Linked DNA regions of Homo sapiens. The protein of the gene in region 1 interacts with the protein of each later gene in a biochemical or structural test. Each region holds a gene or a part of one and is shown in the gene's direction. Other genes may lie near its edges.

What was found.
Region 2: the proteins of CREBBP (region 1) and IRF5 form a complex in vitro, tested with the Homo sapiens proteins (2 studies listed by BioGRID and IntAct, with this or other methods).
Region 3: the proteins of CREBBP (region 1) and CHUK form a complex in vitro, tested with the Homo sapiens proteins (2 studies listed by BioGRID, with this or other methods).
Region 4: the proteins of CREBBP (region 1) and ETS2 form a complex in vitro, tested with the Homo sapiens proteins (2 studies listed by BioGRID, with this or other methods).
Region 5: the proteins of CREBBP (region 1) and STAT2 form a complex in vitro, tested with the Homo sapiens proteins (2 studies listed by BioGRID).
Region 6: the proteins of CREBBP (region 1) and ETS1 form a complex in vitro, tested with the Homo sapiens proteins (3 studies listed by BioGRID, with this or other methods).
Region 7: the proteins of CREBBP (region 1) and SMAD2 form a complex in vitro, tested with the Homo sapiens proteins (2 studies listed by BioGRID).

Annotation. Positions count from the first base shown.
Region 1 is NC_000016.10:3,734,214-3,737,713, reverse strand, and holds part of CREBBP (CREB-binding protein), read left to right. Parts: intron 1-898; coding exon 899-1,064; intron 1,065-1,510; coding exon 1,511-1,678; intron 1,679-3,500. UniProt on the Homo sapiens protein: Acetylates histones, giving a specific tag for transcriptional activation. Mediates acetylation of histone H3 at 'Lys-18' and 'Lys-27' (H3K18ac and H3K27ac, respectively).
Region 2 is NC_000007.14:128,947,927-128,950,538, forward strand, and holds the end of IRF5 (interferon regulatory factor 5), read left to right. Parts: coding exon 1-195; intron 196-283; coding exon 284-402; intron 403-646; coding exon 647-892; 3' UTR 893-2,112; downstream 2,113-2,612. UniProt on the Homo sapiens protein: Transcription factor that plays a critical role in innate immunity by activating expression of type I interferon (IFN) IFNA and INFB and inflammatory cytokines downstream of endolysosomal toll-like receptors TLR7, TLR8 and TLR9.
Region 3 is NC_000010.11:100,223,097-100,226,596, reverse strand, and holds part of CHUK (inhibitor of nuclear factor kappa-B kinase subunit alpha), read left to right. Parts: intron 1-579; coding exon 580-674; intron 675-3,500.
Region 4 is NC_000021.9:38,812,429-38,815,928, forward strand, and holds part of ETS2 (protein C-ets-2), read left to right. Parts: intron 1-574; coding exon 575-686; intron 687-1,844; coding exon 1,845-1,964; intron 1,965-2,352; coding exon 2,353-2,553; intron 2,554-3,500. UniProt on the Homo sapiens protein: Transcription factor activating transcription. Binds specifically the DNA GGAA/T core motif (Ets-binding site or EBS) in gene promoters and stimulates transcription.
Region 5 is NC_000012.12:56,353,608-56,357,107, reverse strand, and holds part of STAT2 (signal transducer and activator of transcription 2), read left to right. Parts: intron 1-529; 5' UTR 530-536; coding exon 537-667; intron 668-822; coding exon 823-976; intron 977-1,304; coding exon 1,305-1,400; intron 1,401-1,575; coding exon 1,576-1,665; intron 1,666-1,756; coding exon 1,757-1,832; intron 1,833-2,244; coding exon 2,245-2,330; intron 2,331-2,493; coding exon 2,494-2,642; intron 2,643-3,500. UniProt on the Homo sapiens protein: Signal transducer and activator of transcription that mediates signaling by type I interferons (IFN-alpha and IFN-beta).
Region 6 is NC_000011.10:128,577,559-128,581,058, reverse strand, and holds part of ETS1 (protein C-ets-1), read left to right. Parts: intron 1-3,500. UniProt on the Homo sapiens protein: Transcription factor. Directly controls the expression of cytokine and chemokine genes in a wide variety of different cellular contexts. May control the differentiation, survival and proliferation of lymphoid cells.
Region 7 is NC_000018.10:47,924,160-47,927,659, reverse strand, and holds part of SMAD2 (mothers against decapentaplegic homolog 2), read left to right. Parts: intron 1-3,500. UniProt on the Homo sapiens protein: Receptor-regulated SMAD (R-SMAD) that is an intracellular signal transducer and transcriptional modulator activated by TGF-beta (transforming growth factor) and activin type 1 receptor kinases.

The DNA of each region.
Region 1 (3,500 bases):
GGCAGGTGGATCACCTGAGATCAGGAGTTCAAGACCAGCCTGACCAACATGGTGAAACCCTGTCTGTACTAAAAATACAAAAAATGAGCCAGGCGTGGTGGCGGGTGCCTAGCGTAATCCCAGCTCCTCAGGAGGTGGGGGCAGGAGAGCCACTCGAACCAGGGAGACAGAGGATGCGCTGAGTCGAGATCATGCCATTGCACTCCACCCTGGGCAACAACAATGAAACTCTGCCCCCCGCCCGCAAAAAAAAAAAAAGAAAAAAGAAAAAAAATGTTCCTCCTGCCCCTTGCTGTTAAACCTTCCCTGCCCCAGGCGACCACTAATCTACTTTGTCTCTCTGAATTTGTCTTTTGTGAATCCTTTGTGTAAACGGAACCCTGCAGCGTATGCTGTCTTGGGTCTGGCTTCCTTCTCTAGCCCTTGGTTTCTGTACTCTAGACCTGCCCCATTCCCTTCTGAAACTTGAAAAGGATAGGGGCATTTGATCAAAGTGTCTTGAACAGAATGAATGAGGTTTATGTTGACATTGACCCTTGGAGAAAAATAGTCAACCGAACTGCCTTTACAGTGCACAGGAGGAAGGGGATGGCATTGCCTTGATGAGCCATCATATTCCCTGGTTCTTTAATGAGGCCTCAGGTTTCTTTTGCAGCCTCGGCCCTGCCCTGTGTGTGCACCCCAAGGGAGAAGTGTTGCAGGGCTAATTTGCAGGCTTGCATTTGCTCAGGATAAAGTTCGAGCCTTGCCCCCACCACACCCAGCTTTGTGGGCATTCATTCTCTCTCTCTGGTTACTTCTGTCCTGGCTTTAGTCCTTGCTCCTCTGCTATAACTCCTTAAAGGCAGGGCCGATTTCACTGGCACGTTCATCTGACGTGTGTGCGTGGGTCCTGCAGGTATGTGACAGGGCACATCTGGGCCTGTCCTCCAAGTGAAGGAGATGATTACATCTTCCATTGCCACCCACCTGATCAAAAAATACCCAAGCCAAAACGACTGCAGGAGTGGTACAAAAAGATGCTGGACAAGGCGTTTGCAGAGCGGATCATCCATGACTACAAGGTACCCGGCGCTGAAGGAAGGTGGTGGCTTTTGTCACAACTGAGGGGAGGATATTTGTGTGCCTTTTTCTTGCATTCGCATACTTGTTAATTACCTTCACTTATGAGGATTAGAAAGCAGAAAAATAAAAGCCTAAAGTGAGAACTTAGAAGCATTTTCTTCAGCTGATTGAGGCTTTCCCCTGGCCGTCTGAGAGCAGCACAGTTGGAGCTGTTTCCATCAGTGGGCATTGGGGCCTGTGCATCACTGTTGCACACATAGGGGCTCCAGCACTGTGGTGGGGGGTGCACATGTGTGGGGGTCTGCTGCACTGTGGTGGGGGGGCACACATGCATGGGACTCTGCCACACCATGGTGAGGGGCACGCTTGCGTGGGGGTCTGTCGCACCATGGTGGGGGGCACGCGTGCATGGCCCTCATCTCACTGTTGTGCTTTGCCCACTCAGGATATTTTCAAACAAGCAACTGAAGACAGGCTCACCAGTGCCAAGGAACTGCCCTATTTTGAAGGTGATTTCTGGCCCAATGTGTTAGAAGAGAGCATTAAGGAACTAGAACAAGAAGAAGAGGAGAGGAAAAAGGAAGAGAGCACTGCAGCCAGTGAAACCACTGAGGTACAGACCCTTCTCTGAGCTCCATTGCCCACGTGTCCCGCTGGAGCTGCAGGGTGGCAGGCTGGGAGGCGCGTGTCGACTGTTAGGTCCTTCCTGTGGTGGTGTCTCCGTTCACACATGCACGTCGACACCACCTGCAGCACAGGGCGTTGGTGGGCAGCAGTGTGGGCTCTGCACTCTCTGCACAGTGGATGCTCTGGGGAGCTGGGGGTCCACTTAGACTCGGAGAGGGAAGAGAGGAAGACAGAAAATGGGACATGGGGCAGTCAGGACACAACCCGCTGATGTAAAAAGTGAGTCGAGGAGGCACAGGGTTGCCAGGCCTTATTCCGTGTTTGGTGGCCACTCTGCACATGATGCTCATGCCCTGCTGCCCTCTCTCCTTGGCGCTGCCCCTGAGTGCCAGGCAGTGCAGACTGAGCCAAACAAAACCCCATCCCTGGCCAGGCGCGGTGGCTCACACCTGTAACCCCGCACTTTGGGAGGCCGAGGCAGGCGGATCACAAGGTCAGGAAAGGGAGACCAGCCTGGCTAACACAGTGAAACCCCATCTCTACTAAAAATACAAAAATTTAGCCGGTTGTGGGAGGGGGCACCTGTAATCCCAGCTACGAGGGAGGTTGAGGCAGGAGAATCGCTTGAACCCGGGAGGCGGAGGTTGCAGTGAGCCTAGATTGCGCCGTTGCACTCCAGCCCAGGAGACAGTGCGAGACTCCGTTTCAGAACAAACAAAACCCCATCTCCGCCCCCAAGGGAGTGGCTGTGTCCTGGTAGGATGTGAAACAAAAAGAACCCAGACCCAAGCATGGTGTGCTCTGAGCGTGGCAGAGCTCTGAAGGGGAAGGAGCCTTGGGGAGGTGGCGTGTGGGCCAGACCCGCCCACCACAGGAAGGTGCTGGAAGAGGACCCGCCAGGCGGTGGGAGGAGGCGCGCTGTGTGCGGGTTTGTGCGGCTGTCTGGGGAAGAGATGATGGTGGCGTGGGTGTGGGCTGTAGCTGTAGGTGCAGGGAGAGCGATGACGAACGTTGAAGGCTGCAGCCCCAGAACTTGGGACAGGCGATTGTGACCAGTGAGGAAAAGCGGTGAATGGAGGTGGCTCTTGCGTGGGCTGCTGCCATGGGTGAGGCAGCCGGGAGCCGGCTGGGGACATACTGCCACTCTGGTGCCTGTCCCATATGAGAGCACGTCTGTGAGGTGGGTGCCGGATGGGCTGTAGGCGGAGCGTGGGGCCTGGGCCGCTTCCGCCACACACACTCGTGCTCACTGCACAGGTGGTTGAGAGGCAGCCACCTGCTGGACGGCGCCCCAGAGTGTCATTCGCAGGACAGAGGAGGCGCGGGCAGGGGGTGGCGTGGGTTTACGCCCTAGGTGGCTCCTAAGCAGAGCTCCTGGCCTGTTGTCTTCGGACTTGCTCCCGCTGGAGTGTAGCTGGTCTCACTGGTGTCTGGTGAGTTAATGCTTGAGTTCCATCTCCTAAGGGTGACACGGGAGGTTACCGCGTCCGAGACAGGCTTTGCGCAGCTGAGTTCCACCCCAGGAGGGGGCACCTGCCTGTGGCATGGCAGCAGTGGGGTTGTCCAGAAGACAGGCCTGATAGGGGCTCCTGCTGGGGCAGCCTTCCCTGTGCACCGGGGACATGCATGTGTTAGGAGGCGGGATGCTGAGGTGTCGGCATGTAGACCTGCTGTCCCTTGTGTGTTTGGTTCATGGACAACAATGGGCAGGGACATGCCTTCGTCAGCAACACCCCAGGAGCTCGCTCTGGGGGTCAGCCTTAGTGAGGGCTGGTGCGTGGGGTGGAGCACTGCTTTGCTATTAGCTC
Region 2 (2,612 bases), on another chromosome or scaffold:
ACACGAACCAGCTGCTGGATGTCCTGGACCGCGGGCTCATCCTCCAGCTACAGGGCCAGGACCTTTATGCCATCCGCCTGTGTCAGTGCAAGGTGTTCTGGAGCGGGCCTTGTGCCTCAGCCCATGACTCATGCCCCAACCCCATCCAGCGGGAGGTCAAGACCAAGCTTTTCAGCCTGGAGCATTTTCTCAATGGTGAGGGCCCAAAGCTGTGATCCTCCTGGCTGCCTCTTGCCCAGGGCATGGTTCCAGCCTCTGACTAGGGACCTTGATTTTGATGCAGAGCTCATCCTGTTCCAAAAGGGCCAGACCAACACCCCACCACCCTTCGAGATCTTCTTCTGCTTTGGGGAAGAATGGCCTGACCGCAAACCCCGAGAGAAGAAGCTCATTACTGTACAGGTACATCTCCCCTATCCCAAAGTCGGCCTTGGCTTGAAAACTGGGGAATCCTGGGGCTAGGCCCTTGCCCCAGGCTGGAGGCTCAGGGCTCCCTGAGCAGTGTGAACTTGGCGGCCAGAGACCATCAAGGCTCAGAGCCGGAGAATGCGGTCTATTACTCACCCCTGATGGCTGTCCTCATGCACAGCTGGATCTGGCAGCCCTGCCACAGGTCTCCCTGTCTCATCTCCTCTTTGCCTCCCAGGTGGTGCCTGTAGCAGCTCGACTGCTGCTGGAGATGTTCTCAGGGGAGCTATCTTGGTCAGCTGATAGTATCCGGCTACAGATCTCAAACCCAGACCTCAAAGACCGCATGGTGGAGCAATTCAAGGAGCTCCATCACATCTGGCAGTCCCAGCAGCGGTTGCAGCCTGTGGCCCAGGCCCCTCCTGGAGCAGGCCTTGGTGTTGGCCAGGGGCCCTGGCCTATGCACCCAGCTGGCATGCAATAACAAGGCTGCAGACGGTGACTGGCCCTGGCTTCCTGGGTGGCGGTGCGGACTGATGTGGAGATGTGACAGCCCCGATGAGCACCTGGCTGGCTGCAGGGTCCTACCTCTGGGTTTCCTGGAAGTGGATTTGGGCCAAGAAGGAGAGGGAGAAAGGCCCGAGCCCCTGCCTTCCCGGGCCTTTCTCTCCTGGGCTGTCTCTGGTCTGGTCAGCCTGGCTCTCGGGAAATTCAGCCATGAGCAGGGAAAGAACTCTCCCAACCCTGGGGCCTAGCTGTATAGGAGGAATTGCCTAAGGGTGGCCCACTCTTGTGATTGCCCCATTTCCTCTGGCAACAAAAGCCAGAGTGTTGTGGGCCAAGTCCCCCCACAGGGCCTCTGCAGGGCATGGCCCTGATTTCCCTGGTTTGAGACTCACTTCCTCATCTCCCTGTCCTCTGAGATAATATGAGTGAGCACTTAGGTATCATATCAGATGCTCAAGGCTGGCAGCTACCCCCTTCTTGAGAGTCCAAGAACCTGGAGCAGAAATAATTTTTATGTATTTTTGGATTAATGAATGTTAAAAACAGACTCAGCTGTTTCTTTCCTTTTACTACTACCAGTTGCTCCCATGCTGCTCCACCAGGCCCTGTTTCGGATGCCAACTGGCCCACTCCCCAAGCACTTGCCCCCAGCTTGCGACCATTGGCACTGGGAGGGCCTGGCTTCTGGGCTGATGGGTCAGTTGGGCCTTCATAAACACTCACCTGGCTGGCTTTGCCTTCCAGGAGGAAGCTGGCTGAAGCAAGGGTGTGGAATTTTAAATGTGTGCACAGTCTGGAAAACTGTCAGAATCAGTTTTCCCATAAAAGGGTGGGCTAGCATTGCAGCTGCATTTGGGACCATTCAAATCTGTCACTCTCTTGTGTATATTCCTGTGCTATTAAATATATCAGGGCAGTGCATGTAAATCATCCTGATATATTTAATATATTTATTATATTGTCCCCCGAGGTGGGGACAGTGAGTGAGTTCTCTTAGTCCCCCCAGAGCTGGTTGTTAAAGAGCCTGGCACCTACCCGCTCTCACTTCATCTGTGTCATCTCTGCACACTCCAGCCCACTTTCTGCCTTCAGCCATTGAGTGGAAGCTGCCCCAGGCCCTTACCAGGTGCAGATGCCCAATCTTGATGCCCAGCCATCAGAACTGTGAGCCAAATAAACCTTTTTCTGTATAAATTACCCAGCCTCGGGTCTTCGTTTACAGCAACGCAAAATAGATTAAACCCCCATAAATGTTCAAGGATACCTTGCCCCACAGCCTCGTCCACAGAATATATTGTCACTGTTTGGATTTTTGCCAACCTGACAGGTGAGATAGTATCTCAGTGCCACTTCTCATTATCAGCAAGGCTGAGTAGCTTTTCACATGGTTAAGTGGCCTGTACAGATTTTTTTAAATAATTTTAGAATGGTTTTAGATTTATGGAAAAGTTCCTAATAGAGTTCCTATGGACCCACACTTTCTCCAATTGTTAACATCTTACATTACTATGGCACACTTGTGACAATAATGAAACCATGTGGACAATTACTATGAACTCAACTTCTTTATTTGGATTTCATGAGTTTTTCGGATATCCTTTTTCTGTTCCAGGATACTATCCAAGATATCACATTACATTCACTTGTCACATCTCCTTAGACTCCTCTGGTCTATGACAGTTTCTTAGACTTTTCTT
Region 3 (3,500 bases), on another chromosome or scaffold:
AATTGGCTAAATTACTAGTCACAGGCAAGAGATGTTAGGTTCATTATGTAGCTATGGAAGCAGAAGTACACTCATTGGTAGGATTTTTTTTCTTCATGTCATTTGAAATGCATACATTAGGATTGGAGTTTTTTGCTTTAGGCTTGGTTATATTAAAACTTTCTCTTGCTGTTTGGAGTCCAGGAAGCCCTGAATTACCTTCTTCATTTTAGTTATGCTAGAAGCTGGGGCACATATTAGTTGTCTTGATTAAGCTCTGAAAGGGGTTTGCTGAGGAGACAGGATCTTTTTTTTTCTAACATTATATATGAGAGAGAGTTCTGAAAAGACCTGTTATAAAATCAGTTTCAGGCACTTTTCCCTTGTATGCTGTTGTGTGTTTGAAGGTCAGTTTTAAAGCATTGGTGTAATAGTCTCATGGTTTATCTTTTTAAAAAGCATTGCCTCAAGAGAGCTGTGGATAAATATATTTAATTAGTAAAGCTAAAAAGTTTTGTTGTCTTAAGTTATTTCTTTGGTAGCAAATAAATCTTCACAAGAACCTAATTTTTTTTTTCTGTTGATTTTCTATTTTGGCAGGAACTTGATCTCAAAATAGCAATTAAGTCTTGTCGCCTAGAGCTAAGTACCAAAAACAGAGAACGATGGTGCCATGAAATCCAGATTATGAAGAAGTAAGTGTATTCCTTGACTTACATTTCCCTGGTTCTACAGCCCAACCAGATGTCATCATGGGGAAAGAGGCCAGGAATCCACTCTTCTCAGGATCTTTTTGGGAACATATATTTTTTTCTCTCATTAAATATATTCTATTTCAAATAATAATATCACATTAAGATTAAGAAGGTTTAGTTAAAATCAGCTAGGACACTTACACACTGTTGGTGGGAATGTAAAATTGTGCAACTGTTACGGAAAACAGTACGGTGATTCCTAAAAAATTAAAAATAGAATTACCATATGATCCAGCAATTCCATTTCTGGGTATATACAAAAATGAATTGAAAGCAGGGACTTAAAGAGTAATTTGTACACTCATATTCATAACATTATTATTCACAATAGCTGAAAGGTAAAAGCAACCCAGTATCTACCAGCAGAGACATGTATAAACAAAATGTGGTATATTCATGAAACGGAATATCATGCAGCCTTAAAAAGGAATGAAACTCTGACACATGCCACAGCATGGATGAATCTTGTGGACATTATGCTAAATGAAATAAGCCAGTCACAAAAAGACAAATACTGTGTCATTCCACTTATGTGTGGTACCTAGAGTAGTCAAACTCACAGTGAAAGAAAGTAGAATGGTGTTTGCCAGAGGGTGAAGGGACCAGCAAATAGAGAATAATTTTTAATAGGTGCGGAGTTTCAGCTTTGCAGAATTAAACAGTTTTGTGCAGTATAGTGATAGTAGCAAAACATTGTGAAAGTATTTGATGCCAGGCTGGGCATGTTGGCTCACACTGTAATTCCAACACTTTGAGAGGCTGAGGTGGGTGGATTGCTTGAGCTCAGGAGTTCGAGACCAGCCTGGGCAACATGGCAAAACCCCATCTCTACAAAAAATATAAAAACTAGCTATGTGTGGTGGTGCATGCCCGTAGTCCCAGTTACTTGGGAGGCTGAGGTGGGAAGATTGCTTGAGCCCAGGAGGTCAAGGCTACAGTGAGCTGAGATCATACCACTGTACTCCAGCCTGGGTGACAAGAGCAAGACCCTGTCTGAAAAAAAAGGAAAGCATCTTGATGCCACTAAACTGTACACTTAAAAATGGTTAAGGTGGTAAATTTTATGCTATGTGTGTTTTACCACAATCAAAAAACTATTTCATTTCAGTTAACAAAAGTCAGCTAGGGCCGGGCGTGGTGGCTCACACCTATAATCCCAGCACTTTGGGAGGCCAAGGCGGATGGATTACCTGAGGTCAGGAGTTTGAGACCAGCCCGGTCAACATGGCAAAACCCCATCTCTACTAAAAATACAAAAATTAGCCAGGTGTGGTGGCGGGTGCCTGTAATCCCAGCTACTTGGGAGGCCGAGGGAGGAGAATTGCTTGAACCCGGGAGGCGGAGGTTGCGGTAAGCTGAGATCATACCACTGCACTCCAGCCTGGGCGACTCCGTCTCTAAATAAATAAATAAATAATAAAAAATAAATTACCCCAACATTTAGTGGCTTAAAATAGCAAACATTTAGTATCTTATAGTTTCTGTGACTTAGGAATTTGGGAGTGGCTTAGCTGGGTGATTCTAGCTTAGAGTCTTTCCTGAGACATCTCAGGATATTGGTCGGAGCTGCAGTAATCCAAAGGCTTGACTGGGGCTGGAGTATCTGCTTCCATGCTCACTTATATGAATGTTGGCCAAAAGCATCAGTTCTTCGCCATGTGGGCCTCTTCATGGGGAAGCTTGAATGTTTTCATGACATGGAAGCTAGCTTTCCCCAGAAAGATCTTTTCCTCAGAAAGAGTGAGTGATCTGAGAGAGAGAGAGAGAGAGAGAGAGTGAACGAGCGAGCAAGATGAAAACCGACGTATCTTTTATGATCTTTACTTGGAAGTGAGACTCCATCCTTTTCCACCACATTCTGTTTGTTACAGTGAGTCACTAAGTACAGCCTACATTCAAGGGGAGGAGAGTTAAGCTCTTAAAAAGAGAAGTAGACATATTTTAAAACTTCCACAGGTAGTGTGCTAAGTACTTTACAGATCATTCTTCCAGTTATCACAGCAATCTTATATTTAGGTATTATTTTGCAAATGAGGAAGTTGAAGCTTATAGAATCACATAGCTGGTGGTTGGTAAAGTGTGGATTTGAAATAAATACTTTCTGACTCTAATATCTGTGCTTAATTCCATTTTGATTCTCAAACTTGGTTATGTGGCAGAATCACCAGGAAAGCTTAATAGTATAAATTATCAGGTCCTACATGTACATGGAAATTCTGTTTGCTTCTTTTTCTTTTTTTCTTTTTTTTTTTAAAAGAGATGTGGTCTTGCTATGTTACCCAGGCTTGACTTGAACTCCTGGGCTCAAGCAGTCCTCCCACCTCAGCCTCTGGAGTAGCTGGGACTATAGGCATGCGCCACCACACCCGGCTAATTTTTAATTTTTTGTAGAGATGAGGTCTCACTGTGTTACCCATGCTGATCTCGAACTCCTGGCCTCAAGCAATCCTCCCACCTCAGCCTCCCAAATTGTTGGGATTACAGTTACAACTACACCCAGCCTAGAACGCCAGATTTGACTTACTCACTGTGTGATCTTGTTACTTAGCCAATTTGTGCTTCAATTTTCTCCTGTGTGGTGAAAGTATTAATAAATCTACCTATAATAGGATTATTGTGACAAGTAACTGAGTTAATATATTTAAAATGTTTACTGCTTGGCACTTAGAAATGTAATAGTAGTAATAGTGATGGTATTTTTATGTGTGTTTTCTTTTAAAAAATTACTAATTTTTAATTATACAAATCAGAAATTAGAATATTATA
Region 4 (3,500 bases), on another chromosome or scaffold:
GTGGATTAGGCCACTAAAACAAATTCCCAGTCACTCCGACTCTGTGAGGTTACTTAAATAAATCCACAGTGGCCGGGCACCGTGGCTCACGCCTGTAATCCCAGCACTTTGGGAGGCCAAGGCGGGTGGATTACACGAGGTCAGGAGTTTGAGACCAGCCTGGCCAACATGGTGAAACCCTGTCTGTACTAAAAATGCAAAAATTATCCAGGCGTGGTGGTGGGCGCCTGTAGTCCCAGCTACTCGGGAGGCTGAGGCAGGAGAATCGCTTGAACCCAGGAGGGGGAGGTTGCAGTGAGCCAAGATTGCACCACTGCACTCTGGCCTGTGTGACAGAGTAAGACCTGTCTCAAAATAATAATAATAATAATCCACAGTAAAATACAATCATTTCAGTCACTTTGACCATTTTACGAGTCTGTTTTAAGGACTGACTGGTTGATTCCATGTTTGCTTCAAAATTGCCAGTTTAATCAGGGACTATTGGTAGGATTGCCCACAGACCACTTTTACAACAGGTAATTCAATCAGTTTAAATATTGTATTTCCATTTTTTTTCCATCTGTTTTTGCAGCGCCAGCCAGCCTTTGACACCTTTGATGGGTCCCTGTTTGCTGTTTTTCCTTCTCTAAATGAAGAGCAAACACTGCAAGAAGTGCCAACAGGCTTGGATTCCATTTCTCATGGTAATTGGTTCCTCAGACTTGACAAATTGTGCATGATTTTCCTAAGTAGTTCAGTTAATAAAGAGATGACAGTTCCTAAGTGAGAAATGTTGGTATCTGGAATCTTTGATATGAATAGCCAGAAGTTCTGGACCTGGGAGAAGGCAGTTTTTCATTTGTATCAACTTGGTGATTCTGATGTGGATTCTGATGTCTTGAGTGCCAGACGCCCCCCAGTGAGCCGCTGTTAGGAAACTGCAGGGGAACCCCTGAGCTGCCCCTCCTGGATGTTTTCAACATTGGCAAGCAGGTCCTCATCTCCCTGCTCTGCCCTGGAAAACAGACAGAAGAGTAGACATTAAAACACACCCAAACTTGTAATTTGGGTTTGCATCATTAGTTAAATCATCTCCCCTGCCCTGAGTTTTGGGGCAACAAATTGTTCTTTGTAATCCTTACCCATCGGTAGTTCTTTCTGTAGTTCTTCGTGTCATTGTTTATTCTTCTTAAAGGAATAGCACGTCAGATAATGTTCATACAATTACTGTGACAGAGCTATTAGTTGGAAACATGCCAGAGATGACTGTGTCATGTGAAGTAGGTGCTGAGAATACAGGCCAGAAAATTAATTAAAACGCATACACTGGCGTAAGCATAACCCTGCATGGCAGCCATTTATCATTCTTGAAATTGCTGAGGGTGTCTGGAGAAGATTGTTTTTCAATAAAAATGGAAGGTGTGGTTCCATTACCGTGCTAAGTGCGGCACATTCATATCACACTCACTTCTCAGCTCTACGCCTAGTTTAATGGAAGTGACTTCCAAATGATACAGTCCCTTCAGCCTTTTGACCAGAAACCATGCAACTGTTTTCATTGCCTACAATTTTAAAATAGACTTAGCAGTTTTCCCTACGCACAACTGCTTTGTGACGCTTTGCAAAATAGAATCAAATCTGAGTTTTATTTTAGATTTTTTTAATAAGTATAGTTCTGAGATATATATTTTCTCAATTATAGTCAGAAAAGTTTTTTGTTAATAGTTACACTGTTTTAAGGAATCATGCCAAGGTTTGAGATCAAAATTGTTCTTTTCCAAAAACTAAGATGTCTCTCCTAAATCTCCACCTGATATCACCAACTTGAAGTCCTAATGTCCCCATGGGGGGTTTCCTTCCAGACTCCGCCAACTGTGAATTGCCTTTGTTAACCCCGTGCAGCAAGGCTGTGATGAGTCAAGCCTTAAAAGCTACCTTCAGTGGCTTCAAAAAGGAACAGCGGCGCCTGGGCATTCCAAAGAGTAAGTACTGCTTTCCTGAGCCTGCACTGGGTGAGAAGAACCAACTTCAGTGCAGTTGTTTGATCTTGACTTGTTTATTAAGCTTTTGCTTGGGGTATTCTGCAAAGAGTAGCATGGATGTCGTTAACCTGAGCCAGTTTCTGTTTCACCCCAATCAACCCAAGACTTGATCCAGAACTCATTAAATATGTAGTAGAAGGACGCATTACTGGTGTCTTGAAATGTGCCTGGGTCGTGTCAGAATGGTGACGTGTCATCATGGTATCTTGCTCATTCGTGGGTTCTGGTGTATGTCGGTACTTGGTGCATAAATTAGGGATGACAGTGGTCTCACTACCTTTCCACTGTTTTTACCTCATGTGTTCCATTTTTTCTTCTCTCCTGGTAGACCCCTGGCTGTGGAGTGAGCAACAGGTATGCCAGTGGCTTCTCTGGGCCACCAATGAGTTCAGTCTGGTGAACGTGAATCTGCAGAGGTTCGGCATGAATGGCCAGATGCTGTGTAACCTTGGCAAGGAACGCTTTCTGGAGCTGGCACCTGACTTTGTGGGTGACATTCTCTGGGAACATCTGGAGCAAATGATCAAAGGTACCAGCTGAACGTCTTACTTCTCCTTGTCCAGGATGAGCTGTGGCCGGGAAGACTGATTGGGAAAGTCACGTGGGTGTTCTTCAACCTTAGGGTTGCCACTTGAAATGACATAGAGTACCTTGCCTCAAAATGCCACTCAAGTGAGTCAGATATATGGCAGTGATTATAGATTTTTATCCCACTTTATGTGAGTGTGTGTGTGTGTGTGTGTGTGTGTGTATAGCATCAAGTATAGCCACAAGGTAGTAGCCTTAGTCACTAAATTGTTTGCTATTGCTGGCTGTATTCATCACGGGAGTCCATGTTGACTCAGATATGTAGGACAGCAAGAATTCCCACGTCTTCTGAGCTCACCTTACAGAGCTAAGAGATATGGCAGCCTTAATGAAAGGGGGGAGCCTTTACTCACATAAACCCTGTGAATTCTACTGTAAATTTTCCTACATCCAAATGGAATGTATTTTGGATGTTGAGGATTGTTGAGGGGGCGGGGTCTGTTTTTAAACAAGTGAGAAATTGATATATATTTACACGCTATCATATTGTACAGAAACTGGCCATTGATCAGTAGAAATCTCACCAAATACAGAGAAAGTCTTGATTCAAAACTTAAAATAGCAGGGAGACCAATGTTTAAAACATGTTGAGTTAAAAAAGAAAAGAGGGCCAGGTGCGGTGGCTCACACCTGTAATCCCAGCACTTTGGGAGGCGGAGGCGGGCAGATTACTTGAGGTTAGGAGTTCAAGACCAGCCTAGCCAATATGGTGAAACCCTGTCTCTACTAAAAATACAAAAAATAAAAATATTAGCTGGGCATAGTGGCACATGCCTGTAATCCCAGATACTCGGAAGCCTGAGGCAGGAGAATCCCTTGAGCCCGGGAGGCAGAGGTTGCAGTGAGTCGAGATCACACCACTGCACTCCAGCCTGTGGGAGTGAGACT
Region 5 (3,500 bases), on another chromosome or scaffold:
CCAAGATCATGCCACTTCACTCCGGCCCAGGCAAAAGAGTGAGAGTCCATCTTAAAAAAAAAAAAAAAAAAAAAAAAAAAATACAGATTAGGCATTCCTAATCTGAAAAATTTGGCTCCAAAATGCTCCAGTGAGCATTTCCTTTGAGTGTCATGTGGGTGCTCAAAAAGTTAGATTTTGGACCATTTCAGATTTCAGAGTTTTGGATTAGGGATGCTCGACTGGTAAGTAATGCAGATATTCCAAAATCTGGACAAATCTGAAATCCAAAATGCTTGGAATAGCAGATACTCAACTGGTAGCACTCCCTGGAAGAATATGCACCAAACTGATAGCAGTGGTTACTTCTGGAGAGGAGGGGAAAGAACCAAGATTAGCAGTAGGATCAACATATATTTTAATGTTTTCTGTATTTTTATTACTTGTATAATTTAAACATTTTAAATTAGTAATAATGAACAATCATGAAACTATGGATGATTTAGTCCAGCAAAATATCCAATTGGGAACCCTCATCCTTCTGACGCAGAGCCCAAATGGCGCAGTGGGAAATGCTGCAGAATCTTGACAGCCCCTTTCAGGATCAGCTGCACCAGCTTTACTCGCACAGCCTCCTGCCTGTGGACATTCGACAGTACTTGGCTGTCTGGATTGAAGACCAGAACTGGTGAGGCCTTCAGGAAGTTGGGGGAATGAAAAAGGTGGTTCCTTACTTCTGGGCCCCCGGGATCCTGGAATCATTAATGGCAGGAAGGGGTTGGAAAGCCTCAGGACTACAGTAACACTGCAGAGACACTAATACTTCTTATTCCTGGTGCCCAGGCAGGAAGCTGCACTTGGGAGTGATGATTCCAAGGCTACCATGCTATTCTTCCACTTCTTGGATCAGCTGAACTATGAGTGTGGCCGTTGCAGCCAGGACCCAGAGTCCTTGTTGCTGCAGCACAATTTGCGGAAATTCTGCCGGGACATTCAGGTACTTGGAACGGTTGGGAGTGATGGGGTAGCACTGGGAGCTGAGCATAGAGGAGTAAGGTTTGGAGAATAGAATAGTACCTGGAGGTGGAAAGGGAGACGGGAACAAATGTGGGGAAAGGAGGACAGAGTCTGGACTTGGGGAATCACTAGCAGAGAGAAGGGTTGCATATACGTGACACTGTTGGGAGGATGCTATGGTGAAAAGACAAAGGGCTAAGAACCCCGAAGGAGGAGGAAATACTGTGGACATTGGTGGGGAGGGTCTAGGGCAATAGGTCATTGAGAGTGGTTGAATTGGATCAATCCTTTCTGTTTACCTATTCTAGCCCTTTTCCCAGGATCCTACCCAGTTGGCTGAGATGATCTTTAACCTCCTTCTGGAAGAAAAAAGAATTTTGATCCAGGCTCAGAGGGCCCAATTGGTGAGGACAATTCAGTGGTAATGTTGGAAACTCCTGAAGTAGAGAGGAACCATGGAAAGGACTCAGGGAGTTGTCTCAGAACAGGATCCCCCCGACATCCTGTGGTATAATTTCAGGCCTGAACTTAAGGCATGAAAGGCCAGAGTTAAAACGTGCTCAGAGCCTCTTTTTTCAGGAACAAGGAGAGCCAGTTCTCGAAACACCTGTGGAGAGCCAGCAACATGAGATTGAATCCCGGATCCTGGATTTAAGGGCTATGATGGAGGTTAGTAGATGTGGTAGGAGTTAGGGTTGACAGCGTTCAGCCTAACACCTCCCTGAGAAGCAGCCTCATCGGGGTCCTCTCCCCTCTGCAGAAGCTGGTAAAATCCATCAGCCAACTGAAAGACCAGCAGGATGTCTTCTGCTTCCGATATAAGATCCAGGCCAAAGGTAGGAAGCACATTGAGGGGCTGGAGAAAGATAAGTGCCTGCTGAGAAGCCGGAGCTGGAAGTGAACAGGAGAAAGCTCCGATGAGCAGTAGTCACTGTCAGACACACCCCACTGACTACAGTCCTGCTGCCGTGCAAAGCTGGAAGTGCTTTGTGGAGGCTGAGCTGGAGGTGCAGCTGAGAGACAGTAAATGTTGAGGAAATGCATGGAAAACTAACAGTGTTTTATTTGAGGGGGTGTCTGGTCCAAGCATGACCATTCAGAATTTGCCTGAGGGTCCCACAGGTGCCTGTGCTTTGCTTGGTTTCCCTTTCTTCCTCCACAAAATTCCTCCTTCCTGACTCTGACTGAGACCCCAGTCAGGAAGGAGAGGAAAGAACCCCTGGACTGACTCCTGTTCCCACCATCCAGGGAAGACACCCTCTCTGGACCCCCATCAGACCAAAGAGCAGAAGATTCTGCAGGAAACTCTCAATGAACTGGACAAAAGGAGAAAGGTGGGAGACAGAGGACAGAACATGTGGGCAACAAGGACCTGGAAAAATGAGGGATGTGGGGACCCTGGTCCTCTAGCGCTGGCTTCTTTGTTTCTTCATCCCCAGTTGGGTGGTGGAGGGTGAAAGGGAGAGATGCTCAACACTCACATTATCTCTTTCCCAGGAGGTGCTGGATGCCTCCAAAGCACTGCTAGGCCGATTAACTACCCTAATCGAGCTACTGCTGCCAAAGTTGGAGGAGTGGAAGGCCCAGCAGCAAAAAGCCTGCATCAGAGCTCCCATTGACCACGGGTTGGAACAGCTGGAGACATGGTGAGAGGTACCACCCCAACCCTCGTCCTCGCCATGCGCTGTGATTTGTAAGTTGCAGTGCCCTGCATATAGCAAGAGATACTGTTCTCTATTTGTCTCTGCTCCCCAGAATGAGCCCTGCTCCCTGCTGACTGCAGCTCTATTCTGCTCCTCATCCTCACCACGCAGGGAGCCCAGAGCCCAGTCTCCTTCAGGGAAAGGAATGAATTAACCCACAATCTGGTTTTTCCTTCTTTTTTAATCACCCAGAAATATATATATATGTATTTTTTTTTTTACTGCAACGAATACAATGACAAGAAAGGAAGGAAGGAAGGAGGAAGAGAAAATTACCTATTACCTAGCTTATTAAACAAAAATGGAATCATATTGTCCATACTATTTTGAAATCCATGGGGTTTTTTTTAAGCTTAACAGTATTTTTTATATATATATATATATATATATATTTTTTTTTTTTTTTTTTTTTTGAGACGGAGTCTCTCTCTGTTGCCCAGGCTGGAGCGCAGTGGCACGATCTCAGCTCACTGCAACTTCCAACTCCCAGGTTCAAGCAATTCTCCTGTCTCAGCCTCCCGAGTTGCTGGGATTACAGGCACACACCACCATGCCTGGCTAGTTTTTTTGTATTTTTAGTAGAGACGATGTTTCTCCATGTTGGCCAGGCTGGTCTCAAACTCCTGACTTCAGGTGATCCACCCAACTTGGGCTCCCAAAGTGCTGGGATTACAGGCGTGAGCCACCATGCCCGGCCAACAGTATATTATATTTATCCATGTTATTTCTTATGTCCACACAACAGTCCCCTATATGGTGGTAACATAATTTAATTAATGAACTCCTATTTTCAGCTATTTA
Region 6 (3,500 bases), on another chromosome or scaffold:
AACATCTTCTAGTCTTTCTCTTTTTCAGGAGATAGTAGCGAGTTACTCCTCAAGGAAGGGTAAAACAATATACTCTTTAAAATTATAATGACATGAGTTCATTTTAATATTCTAAGAAGGATTCGTTGAGCTATGTCAATTCATACAGGACTTGAAAGTGTTATGCTTAATTAGGAGATGGGTTTATTTTTAGAGAAATAGGAGATGGATATGACTCATTTCCATTTAAGCAAGGGTTGGCGGAATAATTATAGTGAAGTTGTGAAGAAACAAAGACTGAGATGTTAATTGTACTGTGAGTTGCTGCTCTGTAACCTTAGTGAAAGAATAAATGCACTTAGCTTAAGACACAGAAGACAGTAGCCCATAATTTGGAACACAGCCTTCATTTGTCAGTGCTGGCTACTTAAAATAAGAAGGAATATTCACTACTACTGTAATGTTGGATTACTTAGTCAAGCAAATGAGGTTCTTGTAGATTTAGTAGTGAGACAGAAAAACCATCTTCAGTTCTTCTAATCCTTTTTCTTTTCTATGCGTTGTAACCACAAAGTTTCCATGGGGAGTAAGGAATGTTCAGCTTTCCTAGATATGATGGATCTTAAACCTGAGTTCTTAGAGAATTGGATTTGGGAGCTTTTGTTACAGTGACAGGTCAGGGAAGACATCTACTCAAATGATTTGGGAAATACACGTGGGCTACTCATGAGAATCAGAAAGAACACACTGAAGGAGTATAGATGAACTCATCAATCTGGTACATCCTATAGTTTAGAGAAAAGTGCCATCTTGCTTGTAGTTAACTCTTGAGAAGCCTAACCTCAGGGTCACACAAGGACACACTTCATCACAGGGATTTTTTTTTTTTTTTTTTTTTTTTTTAATGTCCAAACGATAACTTACTCTCTTGGATAAGCTCAGGACGCACAAGGATTGTACACACCAACTCTGTTTCAAGTACTTTAGGTACTTTCCCTCATTTAGTAAACAGACACTTGTTGCATGGCTACTATGTGTCATCTGAAAAGACACCATCCTTACTCTCAAGTTACTCATCATTCAGGAGCAGAAACAGGCATAGATACAGGAAGTGTCATGAACTTTGTTACACCGTTACAGTAAATCCCATGGAGGGGCATCAAGGAGGTCCATGCAATTGCCAAAGAGGGTAGGGGGGAGGGGAAAGCTTCCTGAAAGAGGAGATACTCTGAGTCTTCAAAAATACATTTCTATAGTATTCAGAAAAAAGAAATTAAAACTCTATACATTGTAGATTAAAGATGTTGCCTTGGTAGCCCAGGTGTTGCCTTTAGTTTGGCAAAAGTGCTGTTGTTTGGAGCAAGTTTTTTTTACATGGTTAGTTGTTTTGGACACCAAATTCTTTTTTTTTTTTTTTTTTCAATGGAGTTTTGCTCTTGTTGCCGGGTGGGAGTGTAATGGCGAGATCTCGGCTCACTGCAACCTCTGCCTCCCAGGCTCAAGCGATTCTTCTGCCTCAGCCTCCCAAGTAGCTGGGATTACAGGCATGTACCACCACACCTGGCTAATTTTGTATTTTTAGTAGAGATGGAATTTCACTATGTTTGTCAGGCTGCTCTTGAACTCCTGACCTTGGGTGGTCCGCCTGCCTCGGCCTCTCAAATTGCTGGAATTACAGGCGTGAGCCACCGAGCCCAGCCCTGGAAGCCAAATTCTTTGTCTCCTGTATTCCAAGCCAAAAGGACATGCTTTTTGTTTGAATTGATAGGAATCCTAAATTATTGACATTAGGATAAATGCTCATTGGAAATCTATTCAAATTTTGCATTGTTTTCAAAGAGGAAAGGCTGGGGTGAGGGGTGGTGGGGAGAAATCTACATTTTCTGCCACAGCTTTATTGTGCTTTTGAATTCCCCATGTGCCATCTTCATACCCAGGATATGTTTTAACCATAATTCATTGCCTATGAAGCTAACATGAAGACGAGAGGGCAAGTTGAAATTTAAAACATGATGCCTTTGTCAGTGGGAGTCTAATTTTGGCTGGTCTATTATAGAATGCAGTTAGTCAATATGTATTCAAATATGGAATGCATATTTTCTTTGTCCCCAAAATGCTCTTTTTCGGCATTTAGTGGGAATGTAAAATATTTTAGGAATTTTTATAATGACAAAGAATTGGGGACAAATTAATTATACGATAATAAGAGGCTCTTTAAAAGTATGATATATACATACAATAGAATACTTGGCAGTCATCATCTTTAGGATAGACAGCCACATTTATCAACAGAGAAAAATGTCCATAGCATTATGTTAAATGTCAGTGAACAAAGCAGGTTACAAAAGAACATGTGGAGAATAATCTCATGAAGGTAAAATTGTAATCACGTGTGTGTGTGTGACATCTATGTTCGTTTAGATAGATTAAAAAATACCCAGAAGAATATTGAACAAATTATTAGTATAATTATCTCTACATGGTGAGGTTTCAGGTGATTCTAATATCCATCTGTTACTTTTTTGTATTTTAATTTTTGCGGTAACATTGTATTAGTTTGGCAAAAACTGCTGATTTCAAAAGAATTTTGTTTTCAAAAGAAAAAAATTAAAGTGTAATTTACTTGGTATTTACCTAAAAGCGTAGTTTTTCTTTTAGGAATACATAACCCCAAATGAAAAAGGCTTAACTGATGTCAAAGTTATCTAGAAATACAGCCAAGCAGGGTCAGAGTTGATGTGAACTGGATTCAGCCTTGATTCAAGCCTGGTCTCTTTGGGATTTCTTGTTCTTCTGCTGCCTTGGCCTGAACAGTCCCTCTCCTCCCTAATTTTTCCTTTATTCTGTGTCTCTCAACCTGCCCTGCCCTGCCCTGGCAAGCTTTGGGTGAAAGGAAGTGAGAGCCTACAGGTCCTGGCCGGGTTGCCAGTTTGGGGAGGGTGGGAAGTTGGAGAAGTGGTCACTCGCTCTATGAAGAATAGAACTCTCTAGAATCAAGCAGAACCATAGTTTTAAAGTGATTTTTTGGACATGAGACACCCACATAAGCCAAAGTGTTGACTTTTTTGTCTTCTCCATCTCATGCTTGTTTCTGTCCTCGCCATCCAGGGTGATGAGGGTGCTTAGAGAAGCATCTTCTCTCTCTCTCTCTTTTTTTTTTTTTTGGCTTTTTGGCAGAAGAGAATTCCCTCCCACGTGACAACTGCTTGAACATCAGCTGCACCAATTTTTTTCTTAGCATTGCACACGTTTATTGCATAAATGCAAAGCAACTGTGGCATCTGAAGATTTACTCCCCAGCTAAGCAGCATCCATGAGACCTGTTTGGGTGCAAAAATGATTTGGACGCTGGGTAACAAAGGTCTAGAGAAGCATCTTCTCTAAGCACAGGAGGAGGCTGAAGACCAGGAGTCTGGTCTCAGCTTGGCCAATTAGCAGCATCGCCTTAGTCTTTCTCCTCATTTGTAAAAAGAGGGGTTTACACTGAAAAAGTGTGTACAAGTTTTCTAACTTACACTATT
Region 7 (3,500 bases), on another chromosome or scaffold:
CCAAAGTGCTGGGATTACAGGCGTGAGTCACCGCGCCTGGCCGATGCATTTATTTTCAACAAATACATTTATTCATTTATTCAACAAACAGCTTTTTCTGTGTGTCAGGCTCTGGACTAGGCAATAAAGTCTCTTAACAGCAAACAAGTACACCCCTGTTCCTTAATGGAGTTAGAAAAGTGGAAACTCATGTCCCTTGCCCTATTCTCCAGTGTTTAGAGTAAGACAGTTGTTAGTGTACAAATCAAGGGCACATGCATTACTGAGCCATTCCTAAAGTGAGCTTGCCTTGCTTCCTGTAACATGTAGCAGATAGCACTAGGGAAGATGTGAAGTGTTACTCAGTGTCACTGGGAACAATCTGTGTATTTTGGGGGGACCTTGGCACCAGTTTTGCACAGTCTATACAAACTGAAGATACGGCCAGTCTTTCAGAAACATGTTTATTGCTGAACAGATGTACACTTGTAGAGCTAAGCTTCATCTGACCTTAATTTGATCACTTATTGCCCTTTAATTACAGAAGCTGGTTAAGGAAAGAAAGCAGAGTTGAATAACTCAGTGAAAGGATCGGGAATAGTGTAAAAAGTTAGTTAAACCGAGACCCAGGATTGGACAGCAGTCTCATGTAGTGGAAAGGCCTTGGGTTTTGGAATCAGAGAGCCCTAGCCTAATATTTTGTTTCTCAGTTACAATACTGGGCAATTTACTACCAACCCCAGGCCCTTGGTTTTCTGACACAAAATGGAAGTACTAACCCCTTCCTCTTATTCAGTGATCACAATTCAAGTACCTAGAACATTGCCTGAGATATAAGGGTCCTCCCAAATGATTTCTTCCTCTCTTGTAGTTGTGGGTTTGTTACTTGGGCTCTTTCTAATCCAAATGATTTGCCTACACTGTTATTATGGACCTATTGTAAAATGTATTTGAGAAGCAGACAATGAACAACAAAGGCCTGGGATAGCCAAATTGTCCCAGTCCATAGCTTAAAGCTTAGGAGAGCCTTGGAGACCCTTAATAAGAATGTGTTGGCATTTATTTAAAGTGTTTCTAACAAGCAAAGTTATCTGGCTTCTAAACCTGCACTAGATTAGAAACAAGTAGATTATGGGTACTGTGGGAGGCTTAGAGGGGGTGTGGTGGGGGCTGGGGAGTAGGATGTTAGCCTAGTGTCTCTTGTCAGAAAAAACAGATAACAGCTCGGTGAGGATAATAGAGATAATCTACAAGACACAAAAATAGTCAAAGCCTGACTAGCATGTCTGGGGCCATTGAGTGCAGGACCAGACCTGAAAGCATAGTAATGAATGTTCATCAATTAGCCTAAATCATGTTTGGGAAAATCTTTTTAAGAGTGCAATAATCTACGTAATATACTTTAGATTGTCACTCAGGATGATTAAGAAATGTTCTTAAAGGGGTTGAAGATTGTGCTATAGCTTATGGCTTATTTCATGAAAGATCACAGTAGCTGTTATGACCAAGATGTTTTTCATTTGTTTTGCCATTCAGACAGCCATTCAGATTCCAAGCTGAAAGGGTAGCCAGCAGTAAAGAAAGGCTGTTTCAGTGTGGTAGCACCCTATGTCACCCCTTTCTTTGGTGTAAGTAATTTTTTTGTCAGTCTGCAGGAGTATCATATAAATTTTCACTTGTGCTTTGACAGTAGTGTATGCTTTTCACTGTGTTTTGAGATAGAGTATGCTCGAGATTTCTAGGATAAAGCAAGAGTGGATAGTTGGCCAGTCTCTCTGTTGAGGGTTTCTTGACTCTTGTCATGTGACTTCTGCCCAGTATTAGCACTGATAATTTTTTTGATCCCCTTTCTTGTAACCTTACCTCAGGGTTACTTCTTAAACCATCTACACCATCAGATAATTATTGGTGACCTTGTAATATGTAGCCTTGGCTGTTTTTAAGAATCAGGTTTTTTTTTAGCAGTAGTACAAAAGTACTAGCCTTTTTGGTTTAAAAATGCATAGTTAGAGGCTTATTGCTTGTCATTGATCAATTTTGATCATTTTTTCAGGTTGGTGTAATTGTGATGTATTCAGTTAGGACATAATTCAATGTTGATTCTAGATTTACATCTCAAAGATAGCTCGCAGCTTCAGTTCAGCAATTTCATGTAGGGAGAATATAATTTTTCCAAGCCAGGTGGATTTAGACACTGCCTTTAGTTTGGTCAGATAGCCAGAAATATTAGGGCAATTCTGTGTCTTCTGTGCTTGCCTCACATTGTACAGTGTGAGTGGTTCTCCTTGGCTCAGTGGGTTCCTCTTATTTGTAACTGAGGCACATTGATAGGACAGGTGCTTGATGTATCTTTAGGTTTGTAGTCTTAAGAAAATAGAAATTCTGACGTGATTAATTCTTATCAAAGTTTGTGAATTTACTGTGAAATTGTCACTAATTATCCTAGGTAGCCCTGTCATTTTTCAAAATCTGGTTTTACATTGGCCTCAAGGCTGTAGAGTAGTGGAAAGCGAGGATAGACTTTAGTTGCTTCTGTTTAGTACACGTGTCTACCTTAATGTAAAAATTTGCATTTCCTTGAATAATCTACAGTGTCATACCTTCCCTCATTTTGTGGGGAAGGGGGATGTAGTTTCACATTTAATGTATTCAGTAGGAATAATCTTGGGTGAACCACTGGTATTCCATCTGTTCATTAGTTTGAGTCTCTTAAGTCAAAAAAGACTCTTGATCTGAGGAAGTAGCATAGTGAATCTGTGATCTTATAGTTTGCCTATGTTTAAAAGTAAACTACATTTTCATATGCTGCTTCAGCTACTTCCAGAAATTCTGTAGAGACATAATGGTTAAGGTCTTGTAAATATCAAGGAAACGTTCCATCCTCATCACGTCTTTCATTTCAGAATGTGAGGTGGTGAGGCCGGAGGCAGTGGCTCACGCCTGTAATCCCAGCACTTTGGGAGGCTGAGGCGGGCGGATCACTTTGAGGTCAGGAGTTTGAGACCAGCCTGGCCAACATGGTGAAACCTTGTCTCTACTAAAAATGCAAAAATTAGCTGGGTGTGGTGGCGGGTACCTGTAGTCCCAGCTGCTCAAGAGGCTGAGGTAGGAGACTTGCTTGAACCGGGGAGGCCGAGGTTGCAGTTAGCCGAGATCCCGCGACTGCTCTCCAGCCTGGGAGACAGAGCAAGACTCCGTCTCAAAAAAAAAAAAGAAAAAAAAGAAAATGTGGGGTGGCAAATCTTTTTTGCAGAGCCTCCTATATAAAATCCTCATAAATGATGCAGTGGAAGCTGGGCCCGTGAGCCTTCTGCCTTGACTTGAGTGAACTATTGAAACTCTTTTGTTGACTAGAGATACTTTATCTGTGGTAGTAAATGTAAATTTTCCTTATTGAGATCCACTTTTAAAATTCTTTTTTTTTTTTTTTTTGAGACGGAGTTTTGCTCCTGTTGCCCAGGCTGGAGTGCAGTGGTGCGATCTTGGCTCACTGCAACCTCCGCCTCCTAGGTTCAAGCAGT